4 linked regions of the Homo sapiens genome follow. The protein of the gene in region 4 purifies or fractionates together with the protein of the main gene of each other region. This does not show direct contact. Each region holds a gene or a part of one and is shown on either strand. Other genes may lie near its edges.

The links.
Region 1: the proteins of C3orf18 (region 4) and CIP2A purify together in Homo sapiens (co-immunoprecipitation; 2 studies listed by BioGRID and IntAct, with this or other methods). This does not show direct contact.
Region 2: the proteins of C3orf18 (region 4) and SPAG9 purify together in Homo sapiens (co-immunoprecipitation; 2 studies listed by BioGRID and IntAct, with this or other methods). This does not show direct contact.
Region 3: the proteins of C3orf18 (region 4) and UTP20 purify together in Homo sapiens (co-immunoprecipitation; 2 studies listed by BioGRID and IntAct, with this or other methods). This does not show direct contact.

Annotation. Positions count from the first base shown.
Region 1 is NC_000003.12:108,558,438-108,565,466, forward strand, and holds part of CIP2A (protein CIP2A), read right to left. Parts: intron 7,018-7,029; coding exon 6,918-7,017; intron 4,808-6,917; coding exon 4,689-4,807; intron 2,405-4,688; coding exon 2,212-2,404; intron 1,592-2,211; coding exon 1,517-1,591; intron 1,431-1,516; coding exon 1,320-1,430; intron 1-1,319.
Region 2 is NC_000017.11:51,110,840-51,117,868, forward strand, and holds part of SPAG9 (C-Jun-amino-terminal kinase-interacting protein 4), read right to left. Parts: intron 1-7,029. UniProt on the Homo sapiens protein: The JNK-interacting protein (JIP) group of scaffold proteins selectively mediates JNK signaling by aggregating specific components of the MAPK cascade to form a functional JNK signaling module.
Region 3 is NC_000012.12:101,381,086-101,387,128, reverse strand, and holds the end of UTP20 (small subunit processome component 20 homolog), read right to left. Parts: intron 5,990-6,043; coding exon 5,918-5,989; intron 4,089-5,917; coding exon 3,816-4,088; intron 3,587-3,815; coding exon 3,460-3,586; intron 1,547-3,459; coding exon 1,401-1,546; intron 1,162-1,400; coding exon 1,006-1,161; 3' UTR 511-1,005; downstream 1-510. UniProt on the Homo sapiens protein: Part of the small subunit (SSU) processome, first precursor of the small eukaryotic ribosomal subunit.
Region 4 is NC_000003.12:50,557,728-50,564,756, forward strand, and holds the end of C3orf18 (uncharacterized protein C3orf18), read right to left. Parts: intron 4,021-7,029; coding exon 3,995-4,020; intron 3,338-3,994; coding exon 3,190-3,337; intron 2,011-3,189; coding exon 1,930-2,010; 3' UTR 1,420-1,929; coding exon of another isoform or gene 937-1,419; 3' UTR 298-936; downstream 1-297.

The sequences.
Region 1 (7,029 bases), about 58 Mb from region 4:
GCAGTAAGTTCACTCTTAAGGTATACATTATATATGTACATAATACAATGCCAAATTTACTGAGCACCTATTATGTGCCAAGTGCTATGCTAGGGCCTGGAGCTATAGAAGCAGTCTTTGATACCATGAGTGAGGGAAAAAAGAATTTCCACGTGGTTTGAAAAATGTTATTAAGAGATAAGCGTAGGTTTGATACACAGAGGAAGGATCGTCAAACACGTGTGGGAAGGAGACCAGAGTAGGCTTCTGGGTAATGAGGATATTTTAACTGAAATCTGAAGGATTATGAGTTAGGCAGAAGAGAGGAAATGGTGTTCCAGACATGGAAAGTCAAGTGCCACGACAAGGAAATACGAGAATATGTCAAGTTTCAGAAAAAGCAAAGTGGCCTAACATGGCTGACTGCAAAGAATGCGCAGAAATGAAAGATGTGGATTGAGGCCTATATAGTTAGAATCCTTATATGCCAAACTAAAGAATTTTAATGATATTTGAAAGCAATAGCAGCTACTGTGAAAGATACTCAGCACAAGAGGGACAGGATCATTTTACTGCCTTAGAGATCCTTGGGGGAGCGGCTAGGTGAAGGGGGTAGAACCAAGGAAAGATGACTGGCTGTAGAGTATCTGAGAAGAGGGTAGAAGACTACAGGTAGGAAGACTAATTGCTCTGCTATGATTCATACAAAAAATGAAAAGGATCCAGCCTATAACAAATAGTGGTAGAAGCAGAGATAGGGCAGAAAAGAGTAATATTTAGAAGGTAGAATCAACTGGACTTGGTGAATAATTATAGGAGGTAAAAACTGTGATTTCCAGGGTTCTTATTTGTAGAACACTAAAAACAGAAGAGGGAATACATAAGAATAATTTTAAAAAGGGAAGGGTGATTAGTTCATTATTGGTTATGCTGAGTTTGTGGTATTTGCTGTATATTTAAATGGAGCAACATAGGCACATAGTGCTCAGGAAAATGATCTGTGCTTGACATATAAAATTAGGAACATTACTATTTTGGTAACCATTGAAACCACAGAACACATAACTAAAGGAAAAAGGTTTAGAATATAAGTCCCAGAGTCCCCAACACTTAAAGGTACAAAATAAATAACATAGGAAAATAATACAAGGTAGCAAAAAAAAATCAGGTAACGATGTAACCAAAATTAAAGAGGACAGAATTTCAGGAAGAAGGAAGGAGGCATGTCAAATGCTAAGGAGAATTTACTTCAATTAGAGTAACAAATACATAACTAATATTTTGCATGTTTTACTTATTAATTTTTCTACAAATCAGATGTGTCTTTATATTCTACACACCTCTGTTTCAGCTTGAGTTCTTTGACAGCGATGCTGAGCAATCAGTCTATCAGCCTGTGCAAGGGCTAGAGCTTTTGTTTCCAAAAGATCTTGTAGCCTGCTTTCTTTGGACTACAAGAAAACATATCATTAATTTTCATTTTAGGAATACATCTATTAAAGCTTATTACACATTGTTAAAATAAGCTTATACTCACAGCTAATGTGGATAGTTTCATTTCATATACATCCATTATGTCAGATATTCTCACATCACAAATCTGATCCTTTACCTACATTTTAAGAGTAAAAAAACTTAAAATTTTAATAAAATATTTTGACACAATGACAAAATAAATGCCTACTTCAAAACTAAATCATTAAAACTTAATGATGAGTAACAAAATAAAAACAAATGCTACATCAGGTAAGTCACAAATATTTCTTTTTTTTTTTTGAGATGGGTCTCACTGTCACCCAGGTTGGAGTGAAGTGGTATGATCTTGGCTCACTGCAACCTCTGCCTCCTGGGTTCAAGTGATTCTCCTGCCTCAGCCTTCAGAGTAGCTGAGACAACAGGCATGAGCCAACACGTCCAGCTAATTTTTTGTATTTTTAATAGAGACGGGGTTTCGCCATATTGCCCAAGCTGGTCTTGAACTCCTCAGCTCTGGCAATCTACCCTCCTTGGCCTCCCAAAATGCTGGGATTACAGGCGTAAGCCACCGCACCCGGCAAAATGTTGAAATTTTGACTGATTTTTCTTATTTCCAAATTTTCCAGAATATTGTTATTTCTTATATTAAGGTTTCAATAGTGAAATCTGTACCTGACAGTGTTTAGATACACGTTATAATTGGGACTGACATATAGCTAATATGTACCAGGTTATAATTGCTATTTTTTCACTCACCACCATTCCAGACTGAAGTTTCTCTATTAATTCTTCAATATTCAATCCAGGAACACCATCTTTCAAATGAGGAGTTAAACACTTTATTGATGTTGGAAAACTGTGATTTGATGATTGCCAGGGCATTTTTCTGGGTATATGTTCTGTTTCCTGTTGTCTATAGGCATTGTTTGCTGCTATACTTTCTCCAAGTCTGAATGGGAGTCAAAGAAAGGAAAAAAAAATTATACGAAAATAGAAGAAAAGGCAGACTTAGTGCAGAATTAGGGAATTTTTAAGAATGGGTCCTTTTTTTGAATAGAAGTCTTCAAATAATCTTGGAGACCATGATGAAATGAAGTCTTGGGAAATATTCTGAATTTTCCAGAGCACCCACTTTTCTGTTTCTAACCTTTTATAATGACAGCTTCACCTCTGGTTTGGAGGCATTGTAAGACTAGTTTATGAGTGTGGATTATCTGTAATAAGTACAAAGTTATTGGTACTGGTCAGAATAATGTTCTTATCATGGGTGATATCACCTGGCCTTTACGTCCTTAGTCCTTTTCCTTTCTCACTCAGTACATACTTTTCACCAACCTGACTTCCATTCTAACCCTTTAAAATCCTCTCTTTCTCCTACCTCAGGCCTTCATATGAGCTGTTCCTTTATCTGGAACACGCTTTCTACCACAAAACAAAATATTTTTTTCACTTATCTCTTAACTAAAGTGCAAACTGCAAGATGGCAGGCACTCAGCCTAATTTATTATAGGCTGGGCATGGTGGCTCACACCTGTAACCGCAGCACTTTGGGAGGATCACTTGAGTCCAAGAGTTCGAGACAAGCCTGGGCAACCTGGTGAGACCCCTCTATAAAAAAATAAATTAATTAAGCAGTTGTGGTGGCACAAGCCTGTGGTCCCCGCTACTCAGGGGGTTGAGTTGGGAATATCACTTGAGCCCCAGAGGTCGAAGCTGCAGTGAGTCATGATCACACCACTGCACCCCAGTCTGGGTGATAGAGTGAGACCCTGTCTCGAAAACAAACAAGTAAATACACACACACAAAAACCCTACCTACCAATGCATCCATAATATACATTCAGTTTATTAAACGCCCAAGATAATGTCAAATAAGGGCATTAAATAGTAAGCATAAAATGGACATCTGAGATAATGCCCAAAGAGAAAATTATTTACAACACAAATAAGACAGGGAATGCCAAGACACAGTCAAAATGGTGGGAAGGCCTCACACACAGAGGCAGAGGATAAGACTTCCATGTTCAGTGAGGCTGCAGATTCCCCTTTGAAGCTCTTAAGGTTTTGTTTCATGTCAGATTACCAGTTTATGCAAGCAGGCCATCACAAAATAGAGCAGCTTTACAGACCACTTTTAACTTGTAACTTGAAAAGCTTCCTGTGTATTTTTGTTGTTGCTGTTAAAAAAATATTTATTATAAAATTAAGGGAATTTTGGTTATATGTTCTCTAGGTCTTACATCCCATACTTTAACTCTTAAGGTATGATGACCTAAATTGCTAATTCTGAAAAGTGGAATCGCTAAATCAGTGAATAGCATATAGCATGGACCAGCACTTTTTCTTATAGGTCAAGATAGTAAGTATTTTAGACTCAAGGACCTATCTGGTCTCTGTCACAATTACTCAATTCTGCTTTTATAGAGTGAAAGCAACATAGACAGAGTATAAAAATGAGTGGGTGTGGCCATATTCCAATAAAACTATTTACAAAAACAGATGCCTGTCCACTGGCCAGTTTGCTGATCCCGGTATACAGGGAATATCTTACCTGTTTATCAACTACTTCAAATTATTCAAACCATTTTTACAAATTCATACATATAAATGACTTAAAAAAATTTTAAACCAGACTCCTAATAGACATTTAGTTCAGAGAGCCCTGAAATCTGAATTTTTTTTCAAACATAATTGCAAATATTCTTATTGCTTGAAAGTAACGAGTATAGTAGAAAATTTTGCCTGGTTGTCATTTTTCCACTTTCTGATAAAAGTTCAGATTTTTTTCTTTAGGAACTCTCCTATTCTCCTATCCCAACTAACTTTTAGTCCACATCGTTCTCATGGATAACCCAGGCCTGGTCAATGACTAATGCTTAGACCTTTTCCTTAAACAGTCAGGAAGGAAAAGCTCTTTCTATGGAGGAACTAAACTGGGAGGATGTAGGCTTAAGAGTGTCCAGAAGTTATCATTAAAAAGAAGTGGCTAGAGACATAGAGGGATAGTACCTGAAGAACATTTAACTGCCTGGATCTAGCTTTTCCCTGAGTGAGTATACATCTGAACTTTTCATTTATAAGAATCAAACATTTTTAGAAATCACTTGAAAAATTACTATTACAATGAAGTCTTCAATTCACTAATTTGCTTGTGTATCTATACTGAGGACTAAAGAGACATAGCAGGGTATTCCAACACCACAAGAGATACACTGCAAATGATTACAACTCACACTAAAGCAGGAAAATCTGGCAGTGGAGCAGCCTCCAATAATATTCTCAGTCCAGACTGTACTTGTTCTCTATTATCTGACGTTAAAGCAAAAGCCAAAGGAGTAATCAAACGTGGGTCCTAAATAAATCAGAAACCAAAAAAGAAGCAGCAGAAAGAATAAACAATGTCAGCTCTTTTAGATAGGAGGTGAGTAAATATATGTAAATCTTAATTCTAGGCAAATTCTAAAATGTTTCTAATGTTTGAATATATTATAGTCTATATAGTTTGAATATATTATACCTTGTTATAGCTGTTTACACTGCAATGCAATCAATATGAACAGTTTAAAAAAATCTGGCAAAGGTTTTGAATGCTTTCAAATGTGCCTATAAAAATTATGCCTTATATATTTTCGTGGATTAAAAAACCCACAACTGACTGATGTGTAGAATTAATGTTTTTTTCCAAGCTATCATTTAAAAGAAAAAAATGGCCAATCACTTCCAAATTAAGGCTATAAAATAAAAAGTAAAATTCAAATTAAATTAGAACATTTAAATTTAAAGATCGAAAAAATACAGTTACTTCAATCATTTATGTCAGTAAATATTTTACATTAGTATTGTAAGCCCCAAGTCATCAACATATATCTAAAATGTCTGGGACCAGAAGTGTTTCAAATTTCTGATTTTTTTCAGATTTTAGAATATTTACATGTACTTACTGGTTGGGCATCCCTAATCCAAAAACCCAAAATGCTTCAGTGAGCACTTCCTTTGAGTATCACCTTTGAGCCTCATTTTGGTACTTAAAACGTTTTGTTTTTTGGAGCATTTCAGATTTCAGATTTTCAAATTAGGGATGCTCAACCTGTATTATGAAAAACATCTTAAATAATGGACATAACATCAGTTTGACTCCTTTAAAAATACATTGAGATATTAGTGAAGAAAATATTAAAATATAAATCCCTTATAATTAAAATATTGAGTACCTTGTAGGTACTTGAGTATAATCCAGTGTCACAGAACTGTGATAAGAGCAGAGCTTTATCTCCAAAACCCTCAATGGTAAGCCTCATTATTTCCAGTTTGTAGTCGAGGAAATTGAAGTCGAGAGAGGTGAAATAACTTACTCAAGCCTGTACTAAGAACCAGTAGAGTCAACATTTGAACTCAGTCCCTTAATCTCAAAACATGCCAGTGGTCCCTGCCTAAGGTTTCAGTTTTGGCTTCTACACTGTCTATACAGTCACTAGAGATGTCTCTGTTAAGCTACTGCAGTAATTTAATTCACTCATTTTTGTTAAACATCTGTTGTAAAGGTAGGTGTTGTAGATATTATTACACAAAGTTTTTAAGAGGCTAATATTTTGGAGTAGTCTCCTCCACTATGCTTTAGCAGACCAGATCAAACCAGAAAGGAGTCACTTGGATGAGTGCCATGTAATCAAACTGCACTTTGAAATGGGCCAGTTTTCCAAAAAACCAGGAGATTTCAGTCAACCTGAGTTAGTATAATAAGGAAGCCCCCTTTATTATAATTCTATAGGAAAAGTAACTTTGAAATGACCAATCTGCTTTTAGTTCCCTATTTGTGCTTTCTTCAGCCCTTTTCTGGTCTATAAAGTCAACCTTCTCTGCTTAGCCCAGGGGAATGATTCATTCTATTTTATAGAATGAGGCTGCCAAATTCTAGAATCATAAATAAAAGCCAGTTAGAACTTTGAACTAAATTTGTTGTACTTTGCCTTTTGATAACAGCTAGAGATCATATTCAGCTACTATTATCATTGAAATTTGTGAGTTAGCTATTTTCTGCACAGCCCTTCTAATTATCACAATCCTTTTCTTCCAGCTGTCTCCCTATCCCCTTAATACCCTACATCAACCCTAACCAAAAACAAAAACCCTAAAACAAATATCACTCTTCCTCCAATGCCAACAGAAACAAATGAAGAAATATACAAATACAACACAAGAAAGGAAAAGGCTGAGGAAGCAGCACTATTGTGAACATTCTCTACATTAGTGTCATGAGCACTTATGTTCAATTCCTGTGAAAGTATATAAAATAACTGTGCAGTGAGACTATTATAACTGCTTAAGACAACAACTTTAAACTTTCTTCTCATTGCCAATTCTAAGAGAATTATCTTCTAAAGATTAAGAATATTAAAACAGAAACTTATATTAGGACCATTTATGTATGAATAAACTTCAATGTTTGAAGAGTTTAAACTCACCTGAAGTATTTTGTAGAAGCTTACTTCCATACCAGGAACCAATGGTTTAAGTTTGTTAATCAAATCAAGAGTTTTCAAAATTACATCAGCAGCAAGTTTGCTTTAAAGATAA
Region 2 (7,029 bases), on a different chromosome or scaffold from region 4:
GCCGGGTGGGTGGCTCATGCCTGTAATCCCACCACTTTGGGAGGCCGAGGCGGGCAGATCACGAGGTCAGATTGAGACCATCCTGGCTAACGCAGTGAAACCCCATCTCTACTAAAAATACAAAAAATTAGCCGGGTGTGGTGGCGGGCGCCTGTAGTCCCAGCTACACGGGAGGCTGAGGCAGGAGAATCGCTTGAATCCAGGAGGCGGAGGTTGCAGTGAGCCGAGATCCCGCCACTGCACTCCAGCCAGGGTGACAGAGCAAGACTCCGTCTCAAAAAAAAAAAGAAAAGAAAACACAGTGCTATGTTCAAAGCAATAATCAAATATCACTGGTCAAGATTTCAAAGTAAAAAACAGAACTTATATATACCCATTTCCAAATAACAGCTTTTTAAATATATATAACATTACATACATTATTAAACTGGTCTATGCAGATATTTCTGACCACAACCTAATAACTTATTTAGATAACAGCTGTATTCATTGAGTGCAGAGCAGAGCAAAATAACTTGGGTAGGTTCTAACATCAGTTCTCCTGAGAAGCAAAGTTCAGTACAACATAAGTAAGCAGCATGTAGTTAAAGGTAAGGTAAAGATTTCAAGAAGCAGGAATCCTGTACTCTCTCAAGCACAGAACTGGATGTGTGACCTATGGCACACACTTCAGCAATCCAGTGAATAGTCAATCTACTAATCTACCCTCTGAACCAGTTTGGTACTATACCCAGTTTGGTGTCCTCTTTTGTGATTTTTTTTTGTTTTGTTTTTTCTTTTGAAGACACAGTCTCACTCTGTAGCTCAGGCTGGAGTTCAATGGCAAGATATTGGCTCACTACAACCTCCGCCTCCCAGGTACAAGTGATTTTCCTTCCTCTGCCTCCGGAGTAGCTTGGATTACAGGCGTCCGCCACCATGCCCAGTTAATTTTTGTATTTTTAGTAGAGACGGGGTTTCACCATGTTGGTCAGGGCTGGTCTTGAACTCCTGACCTCAGGCAATCCACCACCTCGGCCTCCCAAAGTGCTGAAATTACAGGCATGAGCCACCATGCGTAGCGTTCTTTTGTGATTTTTAACTAAATAAAAATATGAGTGTCACTACAGCAGGGACACATAATGGTATCTCATTTAGATATTCACATTCAGAAATCTCAAATTTAAAAAAAGATGTCTTAATCCAGAGCTAGTCTTTGTCTTTAAAAAAAAATGTCTTAGGAGCTTAAGTAATAATTAACTAACAAATTATTATTTCATAAAGCAACAACCATACCCCTTCCCATCCCACTCCCGCCAGAAAACAAACATAGATTGTTCATTTCAGAAAGTGTCTGAATGACTAGGTGCAGGGGCATATCTCTATCTACTCTGGCTAGGGGCAGTGTGAACATTATTCGAATCGTTAACCATGGCCAGGTGTGGTGGCTCACACCTACAATCCCAACACTTTGGGAGGCTGAGGTAAGAAAATGTCTTGAGGCCAGGAGTTCAAGACAAGCCTGGGCAACACAGTGTGACCCCATCTCTACAAAAAAAAAAAAAAAAAAAAGGCCAGGCGCAGTGGCTCACACCTGTAATCCTAGCACTTTGGGAGGCTGGGGCAGGCAGATGACTTGAGGTCGAGATCAAGACCATCCTGGCCAACATGGTGAAACCCCATCTCCACTAAAAATACAAAAATTAGCTGGGTGTGATGGCGCGCGCCTGTAGTCCCAGCTACTCAGGAGGCTGAAGCAAGAGAATCGCTTGAACCCAGGTGGTGGAGGTTGCAGCAAGCCAAGACACTCCACTGCACTCCAGACTGGCGACAGAGCCAGACTCTGTCTCAACAAAAAAAAAAAAAAAAAAAAAAAAAAAACTTTGGCAGGATCCACAAGGCAGGAGGATCCACTTGAGCCCAGGAGTTCCAGACCAGACTGGGCAACATAGTGAGTTCAGCTTGCATAACATAACGAGACCCTGTTTCTACAAAAAAAATTAAAAATTAGCCAGGCATGGTGGCGCATGCCTGTAGTCACAGCTGCTCAGAGGCTGAGGAAGTGGGATCTACTTGAGCCCTGGAGGTCAAGGCTGCTGTGGGCCATGATTGCACAACTGCACTCCAGCCTGAACCTCATCTCTAAAAAAAAGAAAAAAAAAAAAACCCAACCAAAGGAAAAAAAAATCACAAAAACAAACAGTTCAGAAAAAAAAAATGGTATTTTTAAAAATATGAAAAAATGTTGGCCGCTGCCGGGCGTGGTGGCTCACACCCATAATCCCAGCACTTTGGGAGGCCGAGGCCGGCGGATCACCTGAGGTTGGGAGTTCGAGACCAGCCTGACCAACATGGAGAAACCCCATCTTTACTACAAATACAAAATTAGCTGGCCATGGTGGCACATGCCTGTAATCCCAGCTACTCAGGAGGCTGAGGCAGGAGAATCCTTTGTATCTGGGAGGCGGAGGTTGCAGTGAGCTGAGATCGCACCATTGCGCTCCAGCCTGGGCAACAAGTGTGAAATGCCATATCAAAAAAAAAAAAAAAAAAGAAAGAAAAGAAAAAGCAAATAGGTTGGCCGGGCACAGTGTCTCACACCTGTAATCCCAGCACTTTGGGAGGCCAAGGCAGGTGGATCACCTGAGGTTAGGAGTTCAATACCAGCCTGGACAACATGGTAAAACCCCATCTCTATTAAAAATACAAAAGTTAGCGAGGTGTGGTTGTGAGCACCTGTAGTCCCAGCTACTCAGGAGGATGAGGCAGGAGAACTGCTTGAACCCGGGAGGCAGAGGTTGCAGTGAGCCAAGATCGCGCTACTGCACTCCAGCATGGGTGGCAAAGCAAGACCCCATCTCAAAAAAAAAAAAAACAACAACAACAAAAGAAAATAGGTTGGGTGCAGTGGCTCACACCTGTAATCACAGCACTTTGGGAGGCTGAGGTGCGAGGAATGTCTGAGCCCAAATATTCAAGATCAGCCTGGGCAACATGGGAAACCCATTTCTACAAAAAATACAAAAATTAGCCAGGCATGGCGGCATGATCCTGTAGTCCCAGCTATTCCGGAAGTTGAGATGGGAGGATCGCTTGAACCCAGGAGGCAGAGGTTGCAGTCAGCCGGGATTACACCACTGCACTCTGGCCTGGGCAACAGAGTGAGATCTCGTCTCAATCAATCAATCAAAAGATCTATAAAAATATTAAAATATGTGTTTTTTAGGCCAGGTGCGGTGGCTCACGCTTGTAATCCCAGCACTTTGGGAGGCCGAGGCAGGGGGATCACCTGAGGTCAAGAGTTTGAGACCAGCCTGGACAACATGGTGAAACCCCTTCTCTATTAAAACTACAAAAATTAGCCGGGCGTGCTGGCGCGTGCCTGTAATCCCAAACTACTAGGGAGGCTGAGGCAGGAGAATTGCTTGAACCTGGAAGGTGGGAGTTACAGTGATCTGAGATCGCACCACTGCACTCCAGCCTGGGCGACAGCACAAGACTCTGTCTCAAAAATAAATTTTTTAAAAAATGGGCCAGGCATGGTGGCTCATGCCTGTAATCCCAACACTTTGGCAGGCCAAGGTAGGCAGATAACAAGGTCAGGAGTTCAAGACCAGCCTGGCTAACATGGTGAAACCCCATCTCTACTAAAAATACAAAAAGTAGCTGGGCATGGTGGCTCATGCCTATAATCCCAGCTACTCAGAAGGCTGAGACAGAAGAACTGCTTGAATCCAGAAGGCAGAGGTTGCAGTAAGCCAAGATCGTGCCTCTGCACCCCAGCCTGGGCAACAGAGCGTGAAACTCAGTCTCAAAAATAAATAAAATTAAAAAATAAAATATCAAGTGTGGGCCAAGTGTGGTGGCTCACGCCTGTAATCCCAGCACTTTGGGAGGTTGAGGCAGATGAATCACTTGAGGTCAGGAGTTTTACACCACCCTGGCCAACATGGTGAAACCCTGTCTCTACTGAAAATACAAAAATTAGCCGGGTGTAGTGGTGCACACCTGTAATCCCAGCTACTCAGGCAGCTGAGGCAGGAGAATTGCTTGAACCTGGGAGGCAGAGGTTGCAATGAGCTGGGATAGTGCCACTGCACTCCAGCCTGGGTGACAGAGTGAGACTCTGTCTCAAAAAAAAAAAAAATTATGAATGAATGAGAACACTAAAACAAGAACAATGAATGTCAATACCTATTTTCCTGCCCATGAGTCTTACGGGTCCCATGTTCATACACTTCCAAAGACAAGAAGTGTCAAAAGTCTCCATTTAAACAAAAATCATTTTGTTACTGCTTTAAGTGCTGATTCCATGGGAACAAGTTAGAAAATTCTCAGTAGTGTCTCTCACCTCTGCATTCAGTCATCCTATTGTTTTGTTTTTTGGTAAGAAACAGGGTCTTGCCCTGTTGTCAAGGCTGGAGTGCCGTGGCCATGATAACTCACTGCAGTCTCAAACTCCTGGGCTTAAGTGATCCTCCTGCCTTAGCCTCCTGAGTAGCTAGGACTACAGGCTCACACCATCACACCCAACTAATTTTTTTTATGGTTTTTGGGGAAGAGGGGTCTCACTACGTTGCCCAGGCTTGAACTCATCCTTTTTTTTTTTTTTTTAAAGCAAAAGGCCACAAAAAAGCAGACACAAAATCACATAATCCATTCCCAGTAAAGATATTCTCTCTTCAGTCCATTCTCTGCATGTATGAGTCTATCTCAAAAAGGAGGGAAGGAGCCAGGCGCGGTGGTTCACAGTGGCAATCCCAGCACTTTAGGAGGCCAAGGCGGGCGGATCACCTGAGGTCAGGAGTTCAAGACCAGCCTGACCAACATGCAGAAACCCCAACTCCACTAAAAATACAAAATTAGCCAGGCGTGGTGGCGCATGCCTGTAATCCCAGCTACTTGAGAGGCTGAGGCAGGAGAACTGTTTGAACCCAGGAGGCGAAGGTTGCAGTGAGCCGAGATGGCACCATTGCACTCTAGCCTGGGCAACAAGAGAAACTCCATCTCAAAAAAAAAGAAAAGAAAAGAAAAGAAAAGAAAAAGAAAAGGAAGGAAGACAATGCCTCTTCGTTTTTATGTGTAATCTCCCTCTACTGAATGATGCTAAATGAGCTCTCACTTTGAGAATAACAGTGATAACATAAAAGACCCACAGAATCACTAAGAACTAAATTCCTAAAGGTTCTTTAAACTCGTATGTCTACTTTTCAGAAGTTTCTTTTTTTTTTCTTTTTTCTTTTTTGAGAGGTAGTCTCACTCTACTGCCCAGGCTGGAGTACAGAGGCACGATCCCAGCTCACTGCAACCTCCATCTCCCGGGTTCAAGCAATTCTTCTGCATCAGCCTCCCCAGTAGCTGGGATTACAGGCACCCACCACCACACCCAGATAATTTTTGTATTTTTAGTACAGACAGGGTTTCATCATGTTGGCGAGGCTGGTCCCACACTCCTGACCTCAAGTGATCCATCTGCCTCGGCCTCCCAAAGTGCTGGGACTATAGATGTGAGCCACCACACCTGGCCCTTTTTTAAAAGTTACAGCAAATCATGCCTGTTTTAAAAGAATCAGAAGTTGCAGAAAAACCCTAACATACCCAGTTATAACCTCTCTCTCCAGATCATTTTGTATCCAGATTTTTATTTTAAAAAATCACTGGGCTGGGGCACAGTGGCTCACCCCTGTAAGTCCCAACACTTTGGCAGGATCCACAAGGCAGGAGGATCACTTGAGCCCAGGAGTTCCAGACCAGACTGGGCAACACAGTGAGACCTTGTCTCTGTAAAAAATTTAATTAGCCCAGTGTGGTAACGCATGTCTGTGGTCCTAGCTACTCAGGAGGCTGAGGCAAGAGGATCACTTGAGCCCAAGAGATTGAGGCTGCAGTGAACTGTGACTGTGCCACTACACCCCAGCCTAGGCGATTGAGACTCTGTCTCCAAAAAGAATTTAAATTTAAAAGTCACTGATTTTAAAATAAATTATTCAATAGGTTCACAGGGCTTATTCTGGATAGAGTCAACAGGATGTTCTGGCTGAAAAAGTGAAATTGAAACAGAGTAGAAAGTGAGGAGCTAGCTATGTAAAATTCTAAGGAGAGCATTCTAGAGCATGGGCAAAGGCATCAGACGGGTCTTGGTTAAAGAATGGAGAGGTGTGTCACAGGCAGCCCAAAGGAGAGAGTGATGGGCGATAAGATGACAGATTTCTTGATTAGCATCTGAAACCGGTCCAAATCTATCTAAAATTAGCCCTTCTTTAGGTTGTTTTTAAAGAATCCCTAAAACAGCAGACTAGCTCCACACTAGAAATTCAAATAAAAGCAAAGGAAAAAGTCAGAAGGTATTCAAAATATGTCCTATCAATATAAAGATTAAATTTTTGATGCCTTGCTGAGAATTCCTGCAAGCAAGAGATCATAGCACCTCACACATTCCTAAAACATTCTATCTACATACCCACCTAAGTTTCCACAGAGGTGCTCAGAATTTACTTTACTCTCTCTGGTGATGGATAATTTCCATGCTTTCAAATCACTTTTGCTGTAAATACCCTGAGGCACTTACTTTGGTATAAAAGACTCTTGGTCTCCGCATTAAAGACACAAACAGGCCGGCACGGTGGCTCATGCCTGTAATCCCAGCACTTTGGGAGGCTGAGGCGGGCAGATCACGAGGTCAGGAGATTGAGACTATCCTGGCTAAAATGGTGAAACCCCGTCTCTACCAAAAATACAAAAAAATTAGCCAGGCGTGGTGGCACGTGCTTGTAATCCCAGCTACTCAAGAGGCTGAGGCAGAATCGCTTGAACCCGGGAGGCGGAGGCTGCAGTGAGTCAAGATTGTGCCACTGCACTCCAGCCTGGGTGACAGAGCAAGACTCCGTCTCAAAAAAAAAAAAAAAAAAAAAAAAGGCGCAAACAAAGCACTCACAGAAAACTAAACACAGAATTCACTCTACATATTGGCCAAAGGGAGACAATTTCTGGATACTGAGCAACACACAATTTATGATCTTATGTGAAAACTGATGGCCGGGTGTGGTGGCT
Region 3 (6,043 bases), on a different chromosome or scaffold from region 4:
GTGTTTTTTCCTAAGCAGAAGTTCTTAATGAAGTAGGATTTATTACACGTTCTCTCTATAGATAGTTTTTGTGTCTTACTTTTGATATCCAATAGGGCAAGCCCCTCATCCTGTTCTACTTTTGTGAGAGTGTCATGGTTATTCTTGGCTTAATATCATCTTCCATATACATTTTAGAATTAGCTTGTTGGGTTAACGTGAAGAACTCTTGGGATTTTGCTCAGATACACATTTAACCAAAGGATCAACTTGGGAAAAAGAAGTAGCGTTTTATGATCCTGAATCTTCCTAGCCAAGAACATGGTTATAGTTCCGTTTGTGCAGATCTTTCTTACTGCCTTTTCCTAAAATTTTAGCAAGTACTATAGAGCAGTATTTGCAAATCTTTTGTTTGATTAATTGCTAACTTCTACATTTTTTCTTGCTATTTAAAAATGTATCCTTTTATTTACAAATTATATTTTAAACTCTGACTAGTGTCACATGCTTTTTAAACAGTGAAGACCCAGCAGTAGTATAGTGTTTTATTTATTTAAAAAATATGAGCATGATTACATTAAACTATATATTATACAATCTATCCAAAGTTTAACTAACTTAAATAATAAAACCTGGTTGAGCAGGGTGGCTCACACCTGTAATCCCAGCACTTTGGGAGGCCGAGGCAGGCGGATCAGTTGAGCCCAGGTGTTCGAGACCAGCCTGGCCAACATGGCGAAATCCTGTTTCTACAAAAAATACAAAATACAAAAAATTTGCCGGGCATAGTGTTGTGTGCCTAGGAGGCACAACTACTTGGGAGGCTGAGGTGAGAGGATCACTTGAACCCAGGTTGAGGCTGCAGTGAGCTGTGATGTCGTCACTGCACTCCACCTTGGGTGACAGAGTGAGACCTTGTCTCAAAAAAAAAAAAAAACGCCTCCCCCCTACCCCAGACAACCTACTGTAATTTCAGACTAGCAGAATATTCCAGAAAGTTCATGCTTGTATCAGCACAGGGAGACATTACTCCACCATTGCTAAATCTTTCAGGCTATGGCTTTTTTGTCTCTTGGCCTTATATCCTGGACGCAGGAACTCTATCTTTCTCTTCTTTGCTTCACTTTTATTTTTGTGTTTCTTCATTTTTTTCTTGGCAGCAATATCAGGATTAGTTACAAACTGGAAAAGAGAATAGAAATTTTATATTACTTTTAAAGTAAATGTTAAACCAATAAGAATCAAATACAGAAATAAATGTAAAAAACACATGCTCATTAAAGAAAATCTGAAGTCCCAGCTATAAAGTCCCCAACCGCTCAAACCCTTGATCCTCCCTAAGTGTAAGTGTGACACAAACATGCACACTTAGTAGTTATCAAGTCCAGTGAACATGCCATATTTTCAAAGAGCAAACTTACCTCCAGGGCCTTCCTCTTTTTCCGGAGTGCCCTTTTCTCATTAGCCTGTTTCTGTACAGAGGCAAAGGCTAATGAGAAGCTCTCAAGCCCAACCAGCTTTTTGAGTAATTCTATGATTTCCTGGGATAGATTCTTCAGCAAAGGATCTAATCACACACAAAGAGTAATGATCAGAGACAGGTAGGAAAGGACACATTTGAACATCAACAAAATCAACAATATGTACAACATTTATATCCAGCTACTGATCTGGCAAGAAACCCCAAATAAAACAAAACAAAATTTCAACTCTTGCAGCATTATCACTGTTACTTCAACATTAAACACTGATATAAAACTAGCCTCTATGTTCCTGGGATGGGGAAACCAGCAATGCTAGACATAGCACTCCAGCCACCACCTCACCCAGGATGCAATAAGAAATCAGAGAACATGAGGCCCACTTCCCAGCGGAAACCTGGCCCTGAAGACATTAAAGTAACTTGGGACCTTGACAGAAACGTTTTGAATTACCTCTGTTTACCTGTTGAGCTCTTGCAGATGGGGGGAAAAGTAAGAGATTCCCTCTCTAATCCATGATGGGTCACAGAGGCTTAGCTCTGCCCACAGTAACTTTTTTTTTTTTTTTTTTGGCGGGGGAGTGTCAAAAGCCTCCTTTGTGAAGTTGACAAAAAAGCCATTTCTCCCACCCTTCTCTGCCACTCACCCCTATATACAAATAACCCCCAATTTCAATTTCACAGGAGCTCAGGACATCTGTTCTAGATCACAAGCTTCTTGAAAACTTTCCTGCTGTTGAATCCCTAGTGCCTGGCAGATATTAGATGCTCATTAAATGTTGACTGGGTTGAACCAAAGCACACCTGAACCTGCTTTTGTCAGCAGCCTCAACCTTTACCATTGCTTTTTCCTTTGTAAGAGTGAGGAAACTTTCTCCCAAGGTTGTAGGACTGTAAAAGCTCTTGCTTTGACATTTGCTTCATTTGTTTTATTTTCAAACTCTGAACATTCACTTTACCTCCTTTCCTTCCTGCCCCCAGTTCCCTCTTTACCTGTTATTACCAACAATTAGAATAAGTGAGGGAAATGTATCAGGCAAGGAAAAAGAAGAAATGTTAAAATGATATTTTAAAACTATTTCATATAAAAATGATAATACTTATATTTTTGCCATATAATCTTTCTTTTGAGACAGTATCTCACTCTGTTGCCCAAGCAGGAGTGCAGTGGTGCAATCACGGCTCACTGAAGCCTCGACCTCACAGCCTCAAGAGATCCCCCCACCTCAGCCTCCTAAGTAGCTGCAATTATAGTTGTGCACCACCACACCCAGCTAATTTTTGTATCTTTTGTAGAGATGGGGTTTTGCCATGTTGCCCAGGCTGGTCTTGAACTTCTGGGCTCAAGTGATCCTCCCAACTTGGCTTCCCAAAGTGTGGGATTACAGGCGTGAGCCACTACGCCCAGCCTATAATTTTTAAGATGAGAATGTAATGACATTTTATTATTCATTATTATTCATTGTGCTATGAGGTTTAAAACTACCCTGAACCATAGTTTTCTTTGACTATTTAATCTATGTTGAGGATAAAGCATCATCTTTTATGTGAGAAACATTCTTTCTGGGACAGCAGAAAGCATACAGAAGAGGGCAATCAAATATAATACAAATATGCCTATTTGTTAATTATCTTGATATAAGTTTTCTTTTTAAAAATAAACTCTGGCTGGGTACAGTAGCTCACTTCTATAGTCTCAACACTTTGGGAGGCTGAGGTTGGAAGACTGCTTGAAGCCAGGAGTTTGAGACCAAGACCAGCCTGGCATAACATAGACCACTATTCATCTCTCTCTCTTTTTTAAATGTATGTGTGTGTGTGTGTGTGTATATATATAAATATAAACATATATAAGTATATAATATATAATTAAAATATATATATAAATAAAAATAAATCTCAGGCAGGGAGGGAGGACAGAAAGGAAGAAGGAAACATTCAGGAGAGAAGTTAGAAATCCTCATGTGCAAAAGGCAGGAGAACAGACGAGGCAGGGTTACCTTGCTCTGAATAGGTGCTGTTGAGTTCCCGAAACAAAGGAGCTATGATCATTGGGAGATACGGCTTTACCTTGTCTATCCCAAGATCCATTGCTACGGCGCCGAGGAACTTAAAGATGCATGTTCTCTGAAAGTACAGATCATTTTTTTCATTTGAAAGACTTCTCTTTAGCACTCAATCATAGACACAGCATTAATTGAGAAAACAGGGCTCAGTCTATTTTGGGACGGATGTTATTGCTGCAGTTTGGGGTTCAAAGATAAAGTTTCTAGGGACTTAGGAGGATCACTAATATCATTAAAATACTTTTTAAAGAGAAATGACTACTGTCAGTCATTCTGTGCATTCATCGCACCTTTAAGGGGTTTCTCGGCGAATAAGCAGCTTCCAGTTTTGCAATCCGGGACAGCTTCTGGATCAACCACAGCAGCGTGGCCGGCCTGCCGAGCTCTTCCTTCACCTCTTCCTTCTCTTCTCCGTCAGACTCCGCCTTCTCATCTGCACAGGCCACACCATCTTCTAAAGCTTCTTGTTCTTCCAGGTCTTCTTTTATCTTACTTTGCTTATCCTCACAATAAAGTTCCAGTAAATACAAGACTTTGGCTGCGAACAACAAATTCTTAACAACCTTTAAAAAAAAACGGGGTGGGGGAAGAAATTGGACATTGATTTTGAAATAAATAAGGCTTAGTAGAGCATAAGCTAAAATAGGTATTCTACAATTAGAAAACAAAAACAAACTAGGTATTACAACTATTTAACAACTATTAAATGATGAAGGCTCCATTTTTAGATATTCCTTTTTTTTTTTTTTTTAAAGACAGAGCCTCACTCTGTTACCCAGGCTGAGGGCAGTGGTGCAATCTCGGCTCACTGTGACATCCCCCTCCCAGGTTTAAATGATTCTCATGCCTCAGCCTCCTGAGAAGCTGGGATTACAGGCGTGCACCACCATGCCTGGCTAATTTTTATACTTTTAGTAGAGACGGGGTTTCGCCATGTTGGCCAGGCTGGTCTCAAACTCCTGACCTCAGGTGATCTGCCTGCTTCAGCTTCCCAAAGTGATGCGATTACAGGTGTGAGCCACCGTGCCTGGCCTAGATCATTCTTAAGTTCTTCCTCATAGGGCATCCAAACCCATTTCCATGTAACTTTGATCTATCTGGACTAGTTCTACCCTTTAAAGTCACACAGAATAAGGAAACAATTTCCTTCTAGGCCCTCCATTTACATTTTTTGTTTTGTTTTGTTTTGTTTTTTGGGTATTTTTTGAGACAGAGTCTCACTTTGTTACCCAGGCTGGAGTGCAGTGGTGCGATCTCGGCTCAGTGAAACCTCTGCCTCTGGGTTCAAGCAATTCTTATGCCTCAGCCACCCCAGCAACTGGGACTACAGGCTACCGTGCTCAGCTAATTTTTGTATTTTTAGTAGAGACAGGGTTTCGCCATGTTGGCCAGGCTGGTCTTGAACTCCTGGCCTCGAGAGATCTGCTCATCTCGGCCTCCTGAAGTGCTGATGTTACAGGTGAGAGTCACCACACCAGCCCCATTTTACATTTTTAACAACAGCTTTCATCTCTACCTCCATTAAATTCCTTCCGCCATTCTACATAGAAATAACTATTTCTCTCTCTTTTTTTTTTTTTTTTTTGATACAGAGTCTAGCTCTGTTGCCCAGGCTGGAGTGCAGTGTGGTGATTTTGGCTTAGTGCAACCTCTGCCTCCCCAGTTCAAGTGAGTCTCTTGCCTCAGCCTCCTGTGTAGCTGGGACTACAGGCATGCGCCACCATGCCCAGCTAATTTTTGTCTTTTTAGTAGAGATGAAGTTTCACCATATTGGCCAAGATGGTCTTGAACTCCTGGCCTCAAGTGATGCACCTGCCTCGGCCTCCCAAAGTGCTGGGATTATAGGCGTGAGTCACCGCACCCAGACCCTTATTGGGAATTTTAAATGGAGCAAAGAGTAATCCCAATACAGACCCAGTGTTGACAAGACATATGTGTATTTGAACATATATTTGAGTGTATGTCTGTATTTCATCTAATCCCCCAAGCATTAAGATAGGTTCAAAACAAAACAAAATAACAAATGTAAGCTTAGACTGTTGATAGAATAGGCCCCTTCTTTATTTCTGAGACGGAGTCTCGCTCTGTCACCTAGGATGGAGTGCAGTGGCGTGATTTCGGCTTACTGCATCCTCCGCCTCCCACGTTCAAGCAATTCTCCCTGCCTCAGCCTCCCAAGTAGCTCGGATTACAGGCACCCGCAACCATGCCCTGCTAATTTTTTTGTATTTTTAGTAGAGATGGGGTTTCGCCATGTTGGCCAGGCTCATCTCGAACTCCTGACCTCGGGGTGATCTGGCCGCCTCGGCCTCTCAAAGTGCTGGGATTACAGGCGCGAGCCACCATGCCCAGCCGGCCCCTTCTTTTAAACTGGGAGAACTACAATTCTTACCTGTTCTCCTAGAGACTGATCCAAGAATTTGGAATGCAATTGATGGCAAGAGGCGAGAGAGATACTTTTCATCTGTGAAAAGAAAATGGACATTGGTAGACAAAACACAGGACATTTCTGATTGTT
Region 4 (7,029 bases):
TCGGGGCCCTTGGGGCTCAAGCCCCCTTCCTCCTCCGGTCTCACAAGGTCCTGTCCAGTTGACCTTTCCACCCTAGGGGGTGACAGGCCTTGGGACCCCAATCCACAGTTGGGAAATGAAGCCCCAGGGCAACCTCGAAGTCAGGGCCAGAGGCATTTCCTCAGACGGCTCAAGAGAAACCTGGGGTGCCACCTCATAGCTGTGATCCAAGCAACTATCCCCAGGCCCCCCACAGCCCCTCACCCATCCTGCCCCTCCTAGGGTTCCACACCCCAAGCGTCACAGGCTCACACACTCTCCATGTAAACATCTTCATTACATCTTTAATGCTCTCACGTGGAGCTGCTCTGGGTTAAATTACAGCTGTATGCATCCTGAATTCCTGGCAGCCTCCAGTCGACTCAAGTGCTAACGTATTTATAGCATTTAGAGGAGGGAATAAATCCAGAACCTTCCCCATGGGGGCTTCCTAGGCCTTTCCCTCCTGACACATGGCATTTGCCCAGTGGAAGGTCTGCATACACTACCCCTGCATCCCCTCCAGCCAGCAGCGGACAGTGACGGTGGAGAGGCTGGGCACGGGACATGCCTCTGTGCATGCTTGTGTGCATATGTATGCCCAGCGTAAAAAAATGCCCTGCTCTTGTGGTCTGTCTCTGCCCAATGGCTTGCCAGGACCCCTGGTATCAGCCCTGACCCTCCAAGGCTTATGGAGAGGCCAAGTGCAGGGACCCATCTCCCCACTCTCTAAACACTGAACGGCTCTTCCCATAGATGGGATGGAGGTGGGGAATTCAAACATAGACTAAGTTTTTTAGATGTTTTTCTGAAGTGCAATCCCTCACCCACTTTCAGGCAGTCATAACTGCCCCCTCTAGCCTGCAGCCTGTGATTACTGCCCTCAGACCAACAGCCTCTCCCAACCCCAGATCCTCATTAGAGCCCAAGACAGGGAGCCGTTTTCAGAAGCAGGTGAGCCCAGTGAAACAATGCAGTGGAGAGAGGAACCGTGCTGTGCGTGCTTCCCTCTTCCCTGCAGTCCCTGAAGATTGAAGGCAGAGAAGATAGCCTACCCTGATGCTCCACTACATACCATGGGGTAGAGGTCGACTTGGAGGGTGGGGCCAGTGTGGACAATCTCATTCTGCCCGCTGTGCTGGGACAGGCACATGTCTGCCCATGGGCACACTCATGCACATGCATGAGGCCTCTCGGCAGGTCTGGGGGGGCTGCATCCTTCCACTTCCATTCCCCTACTTCCTTCCCCCTCAGCTCCCATCCTAGCTTGGCCCCAGTAACATCTGGTTGCCAAGGATGGGTGGCTGGGAGACCTCCTGGACCCTCCGTAGTATGGATGGACCCTGGGTGTGAATTGCCCTTCTCCTGGCATCCTTGCATACTGGACAGTTTCAGCTCCATCTCTGGGCTTCTCAGGGCCCATAACAGATGCTGCCCTACCCTGTCCCTATAACTTGGGTGGTTTCCTCTCCCCACCCCAGAGGAGGCTCCAGATTCCAAAAAACAGGTCTCTCCCTAACAGAGGGAAACCTCCCCTTTCCTCCCCCAATCCCTCCCACTCCGTATCTCCCTCATTTCCTCCACATTAGCGGGGCAGACCCTGATGTGAGGGATCTGGACAGGGGATGAGGAAGCCAGCAGAGGCTCTTGACCTTCTCAGCATGAGGGATGCCCTCTGTGCCAGGGCCCTCAGGTCAGGAGAAGTCAGTGGTCAGAAGTCCAGCCTGGCTAGGGCCCTCTCTTAGAGTCTAAAGTCAGCAGGTGGGTCTGGAGAACAGCTAGGACCTGGCTCAGCCCTCTTGTGTCTTGGCAGGGAAGATCTTCAGAGTAGGTCTTGACAATCAGGGAGTGGGGAGCTCTGTAGGCACCGTGATGGGTCTCTATCAGAAGTCCAGGCTTGTCCCAGGCCACTCACGCATGGATGGCATTGGCCACATCGGTAAACACCAGCCGGCTGGGTCTCTGCAGTGGGCCCTGGGAGGGCAGAGTAGTCTGCAGGAAGACAGGCAGGGGCATCAGAGACCATGGGCAAGGCCATGCACTCACTGGCCTGGTCACCTCCACCCTCACTTCCTGGTGCCTGCTTATGCTTGGCACTAGCAATGGCTTCTGCCTGGAATGCCCTCCCTGCAAGCTCAGCCTACAAATATGACTTGGCTCAGATGACTCCTCCCCAGCTTGCCCTGTCACCTTGGAGGCACTTACTGTGTTGATTTAATTATGCATGCACTGCCTTTTCCCAGTGGGGGATCAGAGGGCTGGACTCTGTATCCCCAGGCCCTAGCACAGGGGCTGGTACAAGGAGGAACATGGGAAACAAGTATCAAGTGGCCAGAAGTCCCAGTGGCTGGGTGGACCAAGGTTCTCAGTGCGAGTTCCTGAATATCCCAAGGGGGCAATATATCTTGACCCAGGTGATGCAGAGCTGGTGGCAAAACCAAAGGGTCTTCAGACTTCCAGCCTGGATTCTTTCTGAGCCCAAGAAGACGCAAAGAGGCTGGATAAGTCAGGGGCAGGCCAGGCCTGCTCATGGTGCTCTGGCCCTTGGGGATTTGGGGAAATGGTGGCAAGTGGTCAGGCAGCCCAGTGGTTACAACAGGATGGCCACACAGGTACCTATCCCTTTGGACACAGGAGGCAAGTTTGGCTGAGATCTTCACATGCCTGGGTCTGTCAGCCACTGGGAATCCACCAGCCTACTCAGAGGTACCGCTGTCCAAGAGTCTAACCCCATCCACAACCCACTCAGGACCACGGACCCTCAGGAAGCAGAGGAACCTGGGGTCCTAGCCGCCAACAGTCTCTCCCATTAGTCCTTTCCTACTTTCCTAACCAGTACGTGGGGGCACATGGGGCAAGAATTAGGATTTTCAATTGTGGAAGAGAACACTGAGGCTCAGAGATGCCAGTGGGGCTCCCAAGATCAGCAGGCTATGGGGCAGAGCCAGGCTGTATCCCAGGACTGCCTTGGCCTGGCCTTGCGCTGTGAGTTTGTGGGTGGCCCCAGAGCAATATGACCACTTTCTGAACAAATCTGGAAAAAGCCGTATACCCAATACCTGCCATCTGACCACAAGGCAGGTGCTAGAAAGCTGCATGAGAAAGGAGGGAGGGTGAGGGTGGAGGACAGAGGATGCTGCAGGCGGGGTGGGGAGCCTGGTCAGTGCCCACCTTGCCCTGCATGGCCTGCACAGAAGTAGCAGCCTGTACAGAGGCGGCGTCCCGCCCATGCTCCAGCAGCTCCTGCTCCAACTCATCTTGTTCCTCCGTGGGGTCGAAGTTGTACATGGGCATGAGCTGGTGGCGTAGCTTCTCCAGCCTGGGGATGGGGGCAAAGGCTGCTGGGGACAGGGCAGGCCCTTCCCCTCCCAGCAGCCCTCCAGGCCCTGCCTCCTGACTAGCTGAGCCACAGCACACAACCATGCTTAGGGCCTTAAGGTTTCCCTTGAAATGGGAAAAAATGACAGACATTTTTGCACCTATAGTACCAGCTCAACCCCTTAAATGGGTAGCCAGGGAGGCAGCAGTTACCCACTCCAGGGTAAGGCCATACGCCAAGTAGCTGTCATCCATGGGCCCCACAGAGATCACCTAGGCTAGGGCCTTGCTGTAATCCACAGCGTCTGAGTCTCAGGTGGGACTGGGGAGCCAGTAGCAGTCAGCTCAGAGCAGCAGGGCAAGGGTGGCTGGGCAGTTGGGTGGGAGTAATCCCAGCCTTCCCCCTCCCTGCCATCCCCAGTCCCAGGATTATACCCAGTTATCTAGAATCCTCACACCTGCCTGCCCTGTGTGTGAGATCCTTGTGCAAGGGGGGCCCTCAACCCTCCCCAAAGGAAAGTGGTCACCCCCAACCATGAATGGGCAGGACAGGCCTTGACTCCCTGATCAGCTTTTCACCCACTTCCTTCGGAGCCCAGCCCAGCACTCCCCATGGCCTCAAGTTTTGGGTGGGATTTGGGTTTGGGTGGGGAATTACCTCTTCTTCTTCCTGATGTACAAAACCTGCAAGAGAAGGAGCAGCATCAAATGGCAAGGAGAGGAGGCCCTGAGGAACCCAGCAGCCCTTCTGGATGGGGACATGCTGAGGCTGATGAACAAGAGACCCGTGGGTCCCCGTCCTAATGACACATACACCACTCCCCCTTCACCTTCATGCCTCTTTTTTTTTTTTTGAGACAGAGTCTTGCTCTGTCACCCAGGCTGGAGTGCAGTGGCACAATCTCGGCTCACTGCAACCTTCGCCTCCAAGGTTCAAGTGATTCTCCTGCCTAAGCCTCCTGAGTAGCTAGGATTACAGGTGTGCACCACCACACCCGGCTAATTTTTGTATTTTTAGTAGAGATGGGGTTTTACCATGTTGGCCAGGCTGGTCTTGAACTCCTGACCTTGTGATCCACCCGCCTCGGCCTCCCAAAGTGCTGGGATTACAGGCGTGAGCCACCACACTGGCCCCATGCCTCCTTTTGACATTGTTAGCTGCAGACAGTGCCCAGACTGAGTCTGGGGACTCAAGAGGCTCCCTCCAGCCTGGGAGCCCACACAGTTAGGCCCGGCCTGGGGACTGGTGGGCCCCACCTATTGGCTGGGCTGCCAATACTAACTGTAGCTCCAGCCACTCAGCACCTGCCTGTGGCTCCCCAGGGCTGAAGAAGAAAGGGAAAACTTCAGCACATTCCCTCCCCTCAACTCTTCCCAGGCTCAAAGCCACATGCAGGCAAAAAGTAAAGGGACCCGGTAAGGTAGCACATGCCTGTAGTCCCAGTTACTCAAGAGGCTGAGGCAGGAGGATCTCTTGAGCCCAGGAGTTCAAGTCCAGCCTGGGCAACATACTGACACCCCGTCTCTACAACATGTAAAAAGAACCAGAGACAGGCAGTGGCCAGACTCTGTAGCGTGTAGAGCAGTGGCTCTAGGCAAGGCCCTGAGCTGGTGGTCTCCGGAGTTCCTATGGGAGGCTGACGGCCCCCAGTGGACTAAGGTAGGGGTGGGGGACTGGAGCCCCTAGGCATCAGCCCAGGTCAACTCCCAAAAACTCTGATGCAAGAGGAACCTAAGAAGGCCCCTAGGTCCGGTCCCCCATTGTACAACCTTGAAGATGAGGGCCTAGGCAGCCTGAGAAAACATCTAGGACCTCTAGGCCAGAGTAAGAAACCCTGTACAATGCCCTGAGGAGAGGGAGGAAGTGGGTAAGACTTGGGGGACCACCTTGGGCGGGGAATCCAGGGACTTCTGCCATCATCCTGCTCTTCCCTAAACTGGCAGTTTCTGACTACCAGGAGCATGACTACCTCTGCCTCGGGGAAAGCACAGCCCTGTGGTTTACCCCAAATCCTCCCACATTCTTTGTGCCCCATTCACAGCTTGAATCTGGTTTGATTTCCAGCCTGGCCCAGAGCTCCTCCTGCAGGACCCCCAAAACCTGAAAAGAAACTAGGGTATCAATCCTCACTCTCCCCTCCTGTCCAGGGTTGCATGTAGGGGTGCTCCCTTGCTCTCCTGTGGGTAGGCTGTGACAGGAACTCTGGGGTCTTCTGGCCTAGCCCCTGCCACCCTGAGCAAGTGGATCCAGCCCCAGCCCCAGCCCCTGTGGTCCCCACCTCTCAGCCCTTGCCCCAAGCCCTCCTCCCTCCCCTGAGACCCTGGGATTCAGAAGGATCTACAGAAAAGGCCAGAACCTTTACGCAATTTCCATGCCTTTTCCCCTCTTCCTCAGCTAACAGCCACCCCCACACCTTCCTTTCCAAATCTTCCCTACCCCTCACTGTCCAGCAGGTGCAGCCCCCTCTCCTCCAGGAACCTCCCCCACCACTGATCCTGGTCTGCCTGTACCAAGCACTTTTCCTTCCTGGGTAAGGCAGAAAGCCTGGTGCAGATTTGCTCCTCCTTGTACCCACGGCCCTGCTTGAGGCTGGCATCGGGGAGAGGAAGCAGCACTCAGTGAGCACCTCTGGGCCTGTCTCCGGTCCCCAGGAGCTATCTTCTGCCCTCCGCTGCCTTTGTCCTACGAGCTTCCTACCTCTGATTTTGGCAAGAGGGGCATCCACCCAGGCCTTCTGAATGTTCCTCTAGAACAAAGAGTAAGAGAGCGTTCTCAAGTTCCAAGGACAAAACCTTTCACTGAAAGTAACGAGGGCAGTTTCTAGGCCCCATTCTGCCCTTAAGGGTGCCTCCATCTGCTTACCCACTGCATGGGTGCCAAGGGAAAACACTGGCATCCTGCCTTACCTCCACCCAGGAGACCTCTCAGGCCCTGGCCTCATTCTGCCTGTGCTGCACCCTGGGCCTGCTTGCTGGCTGGCAGTTGCTCCCTGGCAGCAATCTGGAGCCTGTGGGGCCCATATGGCAACCCTGGTTTAACAGCAGCTCCAACCAGGCCATGATGGGCCATCCACAGCCCTACTTGTCAGAGCAACATGCTCCTAAGCCCAAGGCCAGCCATCAGAGCCTGCGAGGAGCAGTGGGCAGAATCCTACCATTGCCAGGCATACTGGGGAACCTCAGGGGCACCCCATCCTCCCTAGTCTCAGCCTGCACGATCTCCAGTGGTCCCTCAGTGACATTCTGAGTGTCCATGTATCATCTTAGGGGGACAGCCCATATCCTTAGGGACTGACACCAGATCAAGAGGCATCACACTCACTACTGAAGGATACCTGCAGCCCTCTCCCCAGCCCCCTTCCTTCCTGATGGCTGCCACCTCCACCCCTTCTCATGACACGGAGGCCAGGCTTCCACTTTGAGGTCTCAGCTCTAATTTTGCTCCTCAGCTGTTCCTAACCACCTAGTCTGGAAAGCATTCCTGCTTTCCTGCTTGAGTCCCCAAGTCAGTCCCTGCAGGCTTCCCTTGGAACCCTTGGTTTTTATCTGTTTCCCACTCCCTGTAAGAACCACAGGGCAGGACCTTGTCTTCCCAGCCTCTATTGGGTTCCAAAGGCCTGGTCCAGGGCAGGTACTCAGTAAATAATTGCCAAGTGAATAAATGAATGTTCACTGCCAACAGCCTCCCATGCA